2 linked regions of the Homo sapiens genome follow. The protein of the gene in region 1 purifies or fractionates together with the protein of each later gene. This does not show direct contact. Each region holds a gene or a part of one and is shown in the gene's direction. Other genes may lie near its edges.

Region 1 (3,851 bases):
TCCGCCTCCCAGGTTCAAGCAATTCTTCTGCCTCAGCCTTCCGAGTAGCTGGTACTACAGGCACGTGCCACCACGCCCGGCTAATTTTTGTATTTTTAGTAGAGACGGGGTTTCAACATGTTGGCCAGGATAGTCTGGATCTCTTGACCTCATGATACACCCACCTTGGTCTCCCAAAGTGTTGGGATTACAGGCGTGAGCCACCGCGGCTGGCCCCCCACTCCCCACCCCCTTTTTTTTTAAGACAAAGTCTTGGTCTGTTGCCTAGGCTGGAGTGCAGTGGCATAATCAGAGCTCTCTGCAGTCTTAACCTCCCAGGCTCAAGCAGTTCTCCCACTTCAGCCTCCAAAGTAGCTAGGACCACAAGTGCGTGCCATCATGTCCAGCTAATTTTTCATTTTTTGTAAAGATGGGTCTCACTCTGTTGCCCAGGCTGTTCCCAAACTCCTGGGGTCAAGTGATCCTCCTGCCTCGGCCTCCCGAAGTGTTGGGATTACAGGCATGAGCCACTGCACCCAGCCTTCAATTTTTCAAACAACAAACTTTAATGCAAACTCATAGCACCATACATTTTGGGCATACTGTACTGTTAGAGGAAGTGGATAATAATAGTTATATTTAATATACTTTGTTGATTCATTAACATTTGAACTCATGGATGGCCAATAACGTGCCTGAAAAAAGCTTATTCAACACATATTTTCTCTGAGAGGCACATTGCATCCTTGTGCTTAGGGACACTGCACAACCCGTCAGCATTATGCTTGTGGGCCATTTTAAACATTGCTGTAGCCAAGAAAAAGCACAGAAATGGAAAAAATGTGGCACTAAATAGCTGTAGGAAGAACACCAGTTTACAATGAGAAAGTTAAAACAAGGCAGAGTGTCTCCTTCAGCCTCAGCTAGGAGTGTGCATGTAGGGAGACTCCAACCCTTCACTGCTCTAAGCATGTCTGTGAATGACTGCAAAAGTGCCATGAGTATTGATTTGGGGTTACGAATACATTTTACTGAGTTAGTGAATTCTCAAATACAGAATCCACAAATAACAGTGATTGACTGACTGAATCTCCTTGTAAACTGGCAACAGTCTGCATACCCAACCTGTGTGATCTGACCACTGCTTGCCTCTCAGGCTCACATCTTGTCATTCCCTAGACGACTAGGGTCATAGCATTCTGAACTAGTTTCTGGAATACAGTCTGCTCTCTGTCTTTCTAGTCGTGCTTATGGTACTCTATTGGCATACTCTTTTTATTCTTTACTTTCTCTTAACCAGCTTTTCTCTATCCTTTAGGTTTCAACTTAAATGTCTCCTCCACTTTGTCTTTTACAAATTTTCCTATCTCTGCAATATAGATAAATAATAAAGGATCATATATTTTACTTATTATTTTAAAACTTTTTTTTCTTATTTTTTTTTTTTTGAGACAGGGTCTTGGTATGTTGCCCATGCTGGTGTGCAGTGTGGCATGATCATAGCTCACTGTAACCTCCAATTCCCATGCTCAAGCAATCCTCCTGCCTCAGCCTTTTAATAATTGGGACCATAGGTGCACACCACCATGCCTGGTTAAAGAGTCCTTTATTTAATACAGTTAGTAATATAGGTCTGTTGGTTAAAGATGGGACAATTCTTCTTTGGCTTAACTCAGAATTTGCTATTTAATATAAGAAATTGCTGTTTTCCGCTCATGAAATTAAGTATTTCTGTAAAGGTGACCCATGGAGGTGGATTTTCTAGTCAGGTAGTTGTATACATGTGGTCTTGGTTAAACTATTAAGTTATCAAAAACTTTTATATGATAGTACTGAGAAACTATAAAGGCAGAGTCTTCAGACCTATGAGGAATCAGTGTGTAAATTACAGATATATTTAAAGAGTACTGACTTGTTTTATCAGGAAACTGAATCAGGCACTTATCTTTGAATTTTAACTGGATTATAAAAATTGATAGGGATGTGCCCTATATCGACATTTGAAAAACTTCCTTTAGTAAGACGCTACTTGAGTTTCATAGAAAACCCAGATATAACCCATATGTTGTTTGAATTTTATTTTTCTGGCTTTAATTTCTTTTCACATATTGTATAAGAAAAGTAGAAGAGTGTGCTTTCATGAGAACAAAACTCAAAACTCAAGTATTGTTTGTTAGACTGCAGAAGTTTCCTAAGTTCCATGGGGACAGAGACCTTGTTACTGTGAGGACAGCTATATCTCAGTTTGACATAGAGCCTGATTCATGGTGTAGTACTTGATATCCATTTATTCACTGAATAAATTGGAAATTTCTCTTAACATGATTTTTTTAATACTCTTTTCTCATATACTAGATTATCATGGAGGTGAAATTAGCAGTTATATATATCAACTTGAATAATAGCAAAATGACTAAGATTGAATTTTTGGTGAATTGCAGTACTGTCAGTACGATTTGAAATTTGATCATAATAAAATTGAAGGGGATCACGAATTAGAGATATACAGCCGGTGAATGTGGAAAAAACACCACTCAGTGTGCTTTTCTCTATTTTCTCACTCAGCCACTCAACAGCAACAATCATCACAGAAGACTTCTGTGATTAAATGTGTATGGATTCATTCTCACACCCTAAGCAAGTAATCAATTCTGCAGTGGATACCACCTGTTTGCTCTCCAATTCATTTCAACATTATCTACCTGGAGGTAGTGTCAGACCCCACAGACTGAGGGCTCAGCTTCATAAGACTGCCCAAACCCTTCAGATACCAGTCCTAAATCCAGACCTCTGGAACTTCTGACCAACTGACTTAAAATTGGGGTTCCCATAATCTTCCCTTTGGGTTCGATTAATTTTCTAGAGCAACTCACAGAACTCAGGGAGACACTTAAGTTTATGGGTTTATTATAAAGCATATTACAGAGGATACAGATGAACAGATGCATAGGGTGAAGTATAGGGTGAAGGTGTGTGGAGCTTCCATGCCCTCCCTGGGTGTGCCGTCCTGCAGGAACCTCCAGGAGTTCGGCTATCCAGAAGCTCTCTGAACCCTGTTTTTTTTTTAATGTTTTATGGAGACTTCATTACATAAGCATGGTTGATTAAATCATCGAGGTGACTCATTTAACTTTCAGCTTCCCTCCCTTCCCAGAGGTTGGGGAATGGAGCTGAAAGTCCCAAACTTCTATTCCTGTCTTGGTGCATCTGGTGACCAGCCCTGATCCTGAAGCTGCCTTGGGGCTACCAGCCCTCAATCATTAGCATACAAGAAGATACTCCTTTGGAGATTCCAAGGATTTTAGGAGTTGACCAAATAGATATTTCACAGTATCACAGAAGGTAAAGTGCTACAGTCTGCATTTTAAGTAATATATAAATGACAAGTGTTATAGAGGGGAAGGTGATGGCCCTACCTGAGTTATCCCTGAACTACTCAAATTTATTGACTTGATACCTTGTTGGAAGTTTAGATACAATATATACTCGGTTCTTAAGCTTGTAGTCTTAAAACAATAAAAACCCCAAAACAGAAAAACAGTCTTCCTAGTCAGTAAATCACCTCAGGTGAAAAAATAACAGTGGTTGATGATATCAAGTATGATAAAGGGTAAGATGATAGCCCCTACCTCTGAGTTATCCTTGAGCTACTCAGATTTATGGAAGTTAAGATGCAACTCTAACTAGGTTCTTAAGATTGTAGTCTTGGGACAGGGTGCGGGGGAAGCGTCTGTTGTCTGTAAATCAACCCAGGTTAAAAAAAAGAAGCCTTGATTGTTACTCGGGGCTGTGATCTGATTGACTCCTCCCTCATAGAATGTGCCCATATGACTATAAAACAATAAGGAATATCATTTCAGGTTTTCCAGGCA
Region 2 (3,010 bases), on another chromosome or scaffold:
CAGTGGACAGGTTCCACGGCCAGGGTAGCATAAGGTCTGAGTGGTCTGGGACCCACCCTGAGGGATCACAGTCAGGAAGGGGACTTTGAGGGGCGGTTGATCCACACATTCTGCCTCCCAGGGCTTCCGGCTCAGGGTTTGCAGAAACCAGTTTTCTCTCGTGAAATGTCACAGTGTTAAACACAAGTGGTGCAAGTCAGCAGTAGGAGGTCCACACAGAAATGTGGGTCAGAGCAGGAACTTGAGGCAGTGCTTCCTGATGCAGGCTGGATCCACTTCCAGGAATGTAAGTAGGAAAGAAGATAGTTGATTGTGGTGAACTGTTGGGATATGCAGATAGCTCAGAGTCCTTGTGCACAAAAAGCTGGAAACTGTGTGTCCATTGTCCATTGCAGTGAGATTCCATCATAGGCATCGTCTCATCGATGTCATAGAGTCTTCAAGTTAGAAGTTCAGAACTCTCCAGCAAAAGGCAGGGGAGTCTTGGCATTTTTCCTCACGGGTTCTCAGTGGTGAACTGTTTTTAGGACAGTTCAGGCATCCTCTCTGTTTGCCTTTCTTCCCTGGATCGTAGAACCCTGCAGCGGTAATGAGGCAGTGACCGCAGATGGGCCAAGAGTGTGGGCACCACTGACCCTGGGCTGGGGGGTTGCGTGTGTGGGACGCTGGGAAGGACAAAGGGCGGTCCTGGTGAAGCCCCGACAGGAGGGTCGGTTTCAGTCTTGGCCGCAGTCCCTTTGGCCTCTCCCTATATGTGCCACTCAGTAAGCAGCAGTGTGGGCGGCATACCCTCCAGGGCAGGTTCTCCAGAAAAATCTGACTAAGCGCCTCCACTGCACTTGCGTCACTCCTTTTGTTCCTGTTATTTCTCTTCTGCAGCTAAACAAGACACCATCCAGCTCCAAGAAAGTCACCTTTGGGCTGAACAGAAACATGACTGCCGGTAAGTGGGGTTTTGCCAGCGGCAAGCTTCTCTGGAGCACAGCTGCAGCTCCTGGCGCGGCTCGCAGCCTGGTTCCACAAGGCGGTCGGGGAAGAGGGGGGTCCTAGCTCCTCACTGCCCATTTCTTTATTTTTATTTTTTTTTTTTTTTTGAGACAGAGTCTCGCTGCTCTGTCACCCAGGCTGCAGTGCAGTGGCGAGATCTTGGCTCACTGCAACCTCCGCCCCCCCAGGTTCAAGCGATTCTCCTGCCTCAGGCTGCCGGGTAGCGGGTAGCTGGGATCACAGGTGCACGCCATCACATCCAGCTAATTTTTGTATTTTTAGTAAAGATGGAGTTTCACCATGTCAGCCAGGCTGGTCTCAAACTCCTGACCTCAGGTGATCTGCCTGCCTCGGCCTCCCAAAGATCTGGGATTACAAGCGTGAGCCACCGAGCCCGGCCCCTCACTGCCCATTTCTGAGTCAGAAGGAAGCACCTATGTGTCTGTCCCTCATCCTCAAAGGGCTGTGAGTGGGGTGCCAGTGGTGAGTGGGCAGCCAATTGCCTGGGACCTGTTAAGAGAAGCTACCTGGTGAGACGTGATCCAAAAAGCCGTTTTCCCAAGTGTCTTTCTAAATACTGAAAGCCGTCCCATAGAGAGGCCATTTGAGATCGTAGTGCTCCATCAGCTGTAGCTGTCTCTCTGCGAAACTTCGGAACCACTTGCTTCTTGGGCGACAGAGAAGGGTAACCCCTATCTTCCTACTTTTCATATTGGTGCCATCCATTCGAGTTGCTTTTACAAAGGAAACCAAAGTTTTAAAAAGTAGTATAGGCCAGGCGCGGTGGCTCATGCCTGTAATCCCAACACTTTGGGAGGCCAAGGTGGGCAGATCATGAGGTCAGGAGTTCGAGACCAGCCTGGCCAACATGGTAAAACCCCGTCTCTACTAAAAATACAAAAATTACCTGGGCGTAGTGGCAAGCACCTGTAGTCTCAGCTGCTCGAGAGGCTGAGGCAGGAGAATTGCTTGAACCCAGGAGATGGAGGTTGCAGTGAGCCAAGATCGTTTCACTGCACTCCAGCCTGGGTGACAGGCTGGGTGAGACTCCATCTCAAAAAAAAAAAAAAAGTATTATAACGAATTTAGGACCTGACTCTTGTTGGGAACTGCAAGTAATAGAGAGTATGTGTATGTGTGAGTGTGTGTACATGCACCAGTATATATGTGTGTGTGCGTGTGCATGCACACATGCGTGAGTGTGTATGTTTAGGGAGAAGAGACTCTGAGAGACTGAGGAGCTCACCCAGCCTTTACAACTGGAGAAAATGAACAGTACGAATCCTGCAGCTCCACATAGCACAGATTTGTCCCAGACACAAATGCCTGGTTCACTCATTGTCCAAAACACCCCCACCCCCAATGTTCACCCTTCCAGGAGCCACCCTACCAGCAGCTCCCCTTAGTCTGTGCAGGCAGCCCTGGGCCCTCCCTTGGGAGGGTGAGTTGAGGCATGGGATGTGGCCTCACTGCCCTCCTTTCCTCAGAAGGCTCTTGGGCCTGCTCTCTGCAGGGCCTTGAGATGGCCCTGCTTCGTCCTAGCAAGTGGGTGGGGTCGGCACCCAGGCAGGACGCTGTCTAAGGTGTTGAAGGGACAGCTGTCGGACCCACTTAATATGGGGCCTTGCTCTCATTTGGGACAGAATTCAAGAAGACAGACAAGAGTATCTTGGTCAGTCCCACGGGCCCTTCTCGAGTGGCCTTCGACCCTGAACAGAAGCCCCTCCACGGGGTGCTGAAGACCCCCACCAGCTCACCTGCCAGCTCACCCCTGGTGGCCAAGAAGCCCCTGACCACCACACCAAGGAGAAGGCCCAGGGCTATGGATTTCTTCTGAGGAGCAGCAGAGTCCCTTGTAAAAGACTGCTTTTGTACAGAATGCGCTATAAATTATACCTTTAAGAATGTGGGGCCTTTTTTATGATTTTGTAAGTTCCCATAAGTTGTGTGCACGAGGTTCTGAGAGTGCCCGCAGGCTGCTGCGTCCTGGCCCCTCTGTAGTGGCTGCGGGCGTCTTGGTTGA

What was found. Proteins that work in one complex are often made in the same cells at the same time.
Region 2: the proteins of RRP15 (region 1) and RRP1B purify together in Homo sapiens (co-immunoprecipitation; one large-scale study listed by IntAct). This does not show direct contact.

The regions. Positions count from the first base shown.
Region 1 is NC_000001.11:218,291,615-218,295,465, forward strand, and holds part of RRP15 (RRP15-like protein), read left to right. Parts: intron 1-3,851.
Region 2 is NC_000021.9:43,690,560-43,693,569, forward strand, and holds part of RRP1B (ribosomal RNA processing protein 1 homolog B), read left to right. Parts: intron 1-879; coding exon 880-943; intron 944-2,630; coding exon 2,631-2,824; 3' UTR 2,825-3,010. UniProt on the Homo sapiens protein: Positively regulates DNA damage-induced apoptosis by acting as a transcriptional coactivator of proapoptotic target genes of the transcriptional activator E2F1.